Linked DNA regions of Homo sapiens: region 1 is linked to region 2. The links come from fine-mapping of genetic effects on gene expression. A gene starts in region 2. The other region holds a variant in brackets. All regions are shown on one strand. Distances are from middle to middle. Region 1 overlaps JAKMIP3 (Janus kinase and microtubule interacting protein 3). Region 2 holds the start of DPYSL4 (dihydropyrimidinase like 4).

Region 1 (2,894 bases), 32 kb before region 2:
CCCCCAAAGGCACTGCTTCTGACCGCACCTGTGTTCTGCTTTTGGGTGCAGAACCTGACCAATGAGGAGCAGGTGGTTGTCATACAAGCCAGGACAGTCCTGACCTTGGCCGAAAAGGTAACAGCAGCTGTGTGGACAGTCGGGAGAGGGCCGGGCTCCTGGGGTCTCCTGCCCTGCTCAGCTCAGAGGTGGTGATCTCGGGAGGAGGGCCTGCAGGGCCGGGTTTGGGGGGTCCACTAAGCCCCGTCTGCCCTGGGAGATCTGACACACTCAGGTCAGACAGCACCCACTGTGCATCTTTGCAAAGGACAGATTCGGCTCCACTTTGCTCTGTCACCAACCCTGTCTGCGTTTCCTCCCAAAGGCGGGAAGGTATGGTGAGTCTGCAGGCAGCGTTCTCTGTTCAACTTACCCTGACCCCCTTCTGGGGCCACCCAGCCCACTACCTGCTCCTAGTCCCACCCCTAGCCCTGACCTGCCTGGTGAGCTGGGCCTCCCACAGCAAGGAGAAGGGGTGCTCCTGGCACATAGGGGTTTGGAGAAACAGGCCACCCCTCCCCGCCTGTCCTGGCAGAGCTCTGCAGATGTGTCTCTCCTACGGTGCCCCAAGCTAGTGTCCCTCCTCTCCTGGAGAAGGTGTCAGGGGTAGACTTCCTGGACACCTGGAGGGTGGGAGGGGTGGGGCCATGATGCCAGCGCAGCCTCAACTCCCTGGAGAGGGCTGTGCTCTCCCCTCCCTAAGGAGAAGAGGAAGGAAGACCCAGGCTGTCCTGGCTTTTCTCCCAGCTGTCTCCACGAGCCGGGGTGGGGGACCCTAGGGGTCACTGTCCTGCTTGTTCTGTTTGTGTCCAGTGGCTCCAGCAGATTGAGGAGACAGAGGCGGCGCTGCAGCGGAAGATGGTGGATCTGGAGAGCGAGAAGGTTGGTGGCACCTTCACCGAGGTTCTGCGGCTCGGTGCTGCAGGTGGGACATCCGAGACCGAGGCATGGCCCTCCTGTGTTTCAGGAGCTGTTCAGTAAGCAGAAGGGCTACCTGGACGAGGAGCTGGACTACCGGAAACAGGCCTTGGACCAGGCCAACAAGGTGAGAGGCACGAGACTGCTGGAACCCCGGGGAGGGGCACTGGGCTGAAACGGCCACGTGGCTCAGGTGCCCAGCAGTGCCTCAGGTGCCCATGTGGGCCAGGTCGCAGGGCCCCTAATGGCCCCTAATGACACCTGCACAGCAGGCTCTGGCTCTCCAGAGCTGCCTGATGGGGTCTTCACTTGGAGCTTCATAAACGGAGCAGGATTAGTTGAGGAGGCCTAAACCCACACTGTGCAGTGAGAATGTTCTACAGCCTTTGTGCAGGTCACTCAAGCACAGAAACA[T/C]GCCCGGATTCCTGAAGGCCATCCAGGTGTTGGTGTGGGCTGGTGTCTACCTCCCACCCTTCCCCTGAGGAACTGGAGAAACTGGTGGCTGTTCTGGGACAACAGCCTGCTCACTAGTGGGAGGTGTGGTCTTGTTCTATTTCATCTGGTGTGGCTGGGAGGAGCATAGGACGTTTCTAGGTTGAAAACTAGGCTTCAGAACTGGGTTCCCCGCTGGGAGCTACTTCCCCCGTGACTGCACAAGCAAAATCATCTGTCCCTGCTGGACTCCTATCACGTGACGGAAGGTACGACCAGGAGGATATCAGGCCATGTTGTGGAAAGACAAGTGTCACCACCAAGAGGTTCACCTCGGGACCCAGCCCAGCAGGCAGGGTCTTGACCCTCATGCCTGTGAGGAGACCTGCTTGGCTACTCAAAGCAAGGGAAAGTGGGCTGGGATGAAAATGCTCATTCCTGGGGCCAAGTTCAGCCTGGGAACTCTCAGAGTGATAGTGATGATAATGGTGATGATGACAATGGTGGTGGTGATGATTGTGCTGGCAATGGCAATGGTGATGGTGGTGGCGGTGGTGGTGGTGATGGTGGTGATAGTGGTGGTGATGATGATGGTGATGATCGTGATCATGATGACGGTGGTGGTAGTGGGATGGTGATGATGGTGATTATGATGGTGATAATGGTTATCATGATGGTGATCATGATGGGGATGATGGTGATTATGATGATGATGATAATGGTTATGGTGATGATGATGGCAATGATCATGATGACATGGTGGTAGTAGTGGTAATGGTGATGCTGCTGGAGGTAGTGATGATGATGGTGGCGATGATGGTCATGATGATGGTGATGGTGGTGATATGGTGGTGATGATCATGACAGTGGTGGTAGTGGTGGTGATGATGGTGATCATGATGGTGACAATAGTGATCAATGATGATGGTGATGATGGTGGTGGTGGTGATGAGGATGGTAATGATAGTGTTATAATGACAGCCTACTCAAGAGCCTTTCCTATGTGGCAGGCACTGGTCTGGCCAGCCAGGCACAGAAGCTGGTGACCTGCCCAAGGACACGCAGTCAGAATGAAGGCAGGAGTCGAATGTCAGCATTCTTCTCCTGTGCCCACAGCCATGACTGCTGCACTAGGCATCTCTCCTTCCTGCACTTGTGGATGTGAGTTCCTCACACAGAGGGGCCAGGGCTCAAACGCAGAAGCCTACAGAGCAAAGAACAGCCACACCAGGCACCTAGCATCCTGGGTGGGGGTGTAAGGCCCATGTCAGTTGCTGTGGAAGCCAGTGTGTGAGCCATGGGAGGCTTTGGAGGCAGATGACCTGGGTTTGAGGCCCAGCTCAGCTGGTAACCACTAGGGATTGGGAGTTCCTGTAAGATGCTGGGCATGGAGGCTGGCCCTGGCTAAACTGGTAATGGCCCTCCTGTTGCTATGGTTAGTGTCACTATTGCTGACCAGCAGTGTGCACATGACTGCGTGGGAGCAGCTCACAGGTTGCCAGCTG
Region 2 (2,894 bases):
AACTCTGGCTTTGAAATGCGGACTGCGGTAACAACGCAAAGGCCTGAAGTCTCTGGGTTCGAATTCAGCTGCTGCAGGCTGGGTAGAATGACAGATGGAGTGACAGCATCGCCCGTCACTCCTGTCTCGCCCCAAGCCTCTAACTCGGCTTTAAGGGAGATCAGCAGCAGTTTGCGTGGGCGGGTACACCCCACCCCCGCGCGCCCTCCACACTCGCCCAGGGTTTCGGAGTCAGGGCTTTCTTGTCTGGCGTGGGACGGCCCAAGGGGCCTGGAAATGTGGCCGGGATTCCCACAGCGGTTTCTCCGGTGCGCGCTCCCCGCCCGGCCTTCCCAGCGCCCAGTGTGTCCCGAGGGCGAGCAGCCACGCGTGGCCGGGACTAAGCGAGCACCCAGGGGCCAGAATGGGGCGTTCAGCACCCGCTACGTGGACAGAGCCAGCTCCGCGCAGCGCTGCCGGGCGGCAGGAGGCGGGGGGGGAGGGCGCGGCCTCCAGGTCCGCCCAGTGCACCTGCCGCGCAGACCTCGCTACAGGAGGCTCCGAGACCGGATTCTGTCGCCCGCTCCTGCCGTGACCGCGCGGCAGCCTCAGGAGCCCGCGAGGCCTCTGGCCCGGCCCAAGCTTGGCTGCGTGTTCCGCTGCGTGGAGGACGCCTTCGAGAGCAAGACGCTGCCGCTGGACGCTCTGGGCGGCGGCCGCCCGGGCCCTCGGGTTGGGAGGCGAGTCTGCGCGGCGCGCGGAGACCCCTCAACGGCCGCAGCAAGTCCCCGAGGGCAGCCCGGCGTGGCCCAGGCCCGGGACCCCCAGCAGGTAGTGGCCGCGGGACAGAGGCCGTGGGCCCGGGCTCGGACTCCCCGAGACCCTCGCACCCGGAGGACGCCGGGCGTGGGGCTCCCCCGCTCCCCCCTGCGGGGTCCTCCCTATCCGTAAAGGTCCTGAGCCTTCTGGGTCCTGCGACCACCCCCCACCCCCGCGAGGTCCCGCCCACCACCGCGTCCCGGTCCCTGGGGAGCGCGTGCGCCTCCTTCTGTCTCTCTCTCTCTCTCTCTCTGTCCTATTCGGGCCCCTCCTGCCCTCCGTCTCTCGCGGCCAGCGTGGAACAGCCTCGCGGGGTCACAGCCTGGCGCTCGGACCCTGGCCCGGGTCATCTGCGAAGGAGCCGGCTTTGGCCAAGGTGCCTTCCTGGACGGGTGTGGTTCCCAGAGCGTCGCGGCCCGGGGTTGACTGGCTCGGAATCCCGGGGCCTTGGGCGCCTCGCGTCTCCTGGGACCTGGGTTCCGCGCTGGAGGGCAGCGGGGGCGCGGGCGGGGCCTGGCAGGACGTGGCCGGACTCTCTCCCTCGCCTCCCCGGGGTGCAAACCCCGCGCACATCAGCTGGAGCAGGTTGAAATCCCCACCCAGCGCTCGTCCGCGGGTCTGCGCGGGGGCCCGGGGTGCAGAGATCAGACCCTGCAGCGGTTCCAGCGCTGGGGGGGCTTTAAAGCGAAGGAGTGGCTGAGGGCGGGGGCGGGGCTGATGGGCGGGGTGAGGCGGGGCTCGGGCTGGGGCGGGCCCTATCGGGGGCGGGGCCTGCCGGGGGCGGAGCCGGGGTGGGGGCGGGGCCCAGCGGGGGCGGGACCGGAACGGAGCCGTGCGGCCCCGCGCGCTCGCAGTCTGTCTCCCGCCGTCCCCACGCACGCGTCCCGGCTCACGCGTCCCCCCGCCCGCCCGCCCGCCCGCCCGCCCCCGCTTGTGCCGCCCCTACCAGAGACCCCCAGGAGCAGGATGTCCTTCCAGGGCAAGAAAAGCATCCCCCGGATCACGGTGAGCCCGGTCCCGCTTCGCCCGGCGCCCCCTGCCCGCCGCCCGGAGTGGGGCCTGGACGCCGGGCGGACCCTCCTGGTCTTGTGCGTGGGTGGGGGGTCCCTGCCTTTGCGTCTGGTCCCTGTCCTGGCGCCCGCCCTTCCCTGCTCGGCTCCTTCGCGCCCCAGGGTCCGAGAGTCCCCGCTAGCGCCGCGCAGACCCCCTTAAGGAGCGGGGCGCCCAGGCCCGGCCCGGCCCGGCCCTGCCCGGCCCTGCCGGGCCCTGCCGGGCCCTGCCCGGCCTTGCCCGGCCTTGCCGGCTTCCGGGAGCCTCGGCTGCGCCCGGGGAGAACCCGGGGCCGGGCGGCCTGTCCCTCGGAGCGCTAGCGGCTCCTTTCTCCCACGGCGGTCGGGTGGCGAGGCGGGCGGACGCGGCCCTTTGTTGGCCCGGGCTGGTCCGGGGCGCGGGGAGATGCCGTTCCCGGCGCAGCCCGTGGGTCGCCCGCCCCTTGGACGCACTGGCGCTGCGTCGGGAGCTCTTTGTCCGAGACAAAGCGATTTAGCCCCGGCCGCTCTGGCCGGAGTCCCTGGTGGCCCCGAACCCTTCCAGTAACCTGGGTTCAGCGACTCCAAGGAAAGCGAGCGGTCAAGGGCCACTGGCCGGGAACCCTGGCAGCCCCTGAACCTTCGAGAGCAGAGACCCCTCCCCAACACCCACACGCACCGGCGCGGGAGGTCCCGCTCTGCCAGAAACAAAGCCTCCCCGCTCGGGCGGGGGGAGATGGGGGTGGGAGGAAGGAGGCTTCGGGACCCGGCAGGACCTGGGCGGGGGAGTCCATGGGGTCCCAGACCCGACTCTGGACTTGGCCTCGGCGGGAGGGCCGTGGGGTCTGACCTCTGGCATTAGCTCGAGCCGTGGGCTGTGGGCTCCACTCCCCCAGACTCTGAGCGAGGAAGGAGCCCTCCCCTCTCCAGATGGGAGGGGCTGCTGCCTCCAGAGGGTTCTGCCCGGCTGGGTCTGGTCTTGATGCAGGAGGTCTTGCCAGTCAGCTGGCATGTGGGGGTCGAGTTTGGGGGTGGCAGGAGGACCCCTTCCCAGGGGAGGTCAGGCAA

The links.
Region 1: its variant is fine-mapped to the expression of DPYSL4 in lymphoblastoid cells (GEUVADIS, PIP 0.95).

The regions. Positions count from the first base shown.
Region 1 is chr10:132,152,907-132,155,800 of GRCh38, forward strand. JAKMIP3 (Janus kinase and microtubule interacting protein 3) reads left to right here. Exons shown (of 24, transcript NM_001323087.2): 17 at 52-117; 18 at 853-921; 19 at 1,007-1,084. Among named protein-coding and RNA genes, the nearest start is that of JAKMIP3-AS1, 32 kb to the right of the region's middle. The variant T/C (reference allele first, on the strand shown) is at 1,372.
Region 2 is chr10:132,185,300-132,188,193 of GRCh38, forward strand. DPYSL4 (dihydropyrimidinase like 4) reads left to right here and starts at 1,649. Exons shown (of 14, transcript NM_006426.3): 1 at 1,649-1,803. The coding sequence starts at 1,765. JAKMIP3-AS1 (JAKMIP3 antisense RNA 1) reads right to left here and starts at 1,453. Exons shown (of 4, transcript NR_184044.1): 1 at 1-1,453. RefSeq lists an enhancer at 2,368-2,869.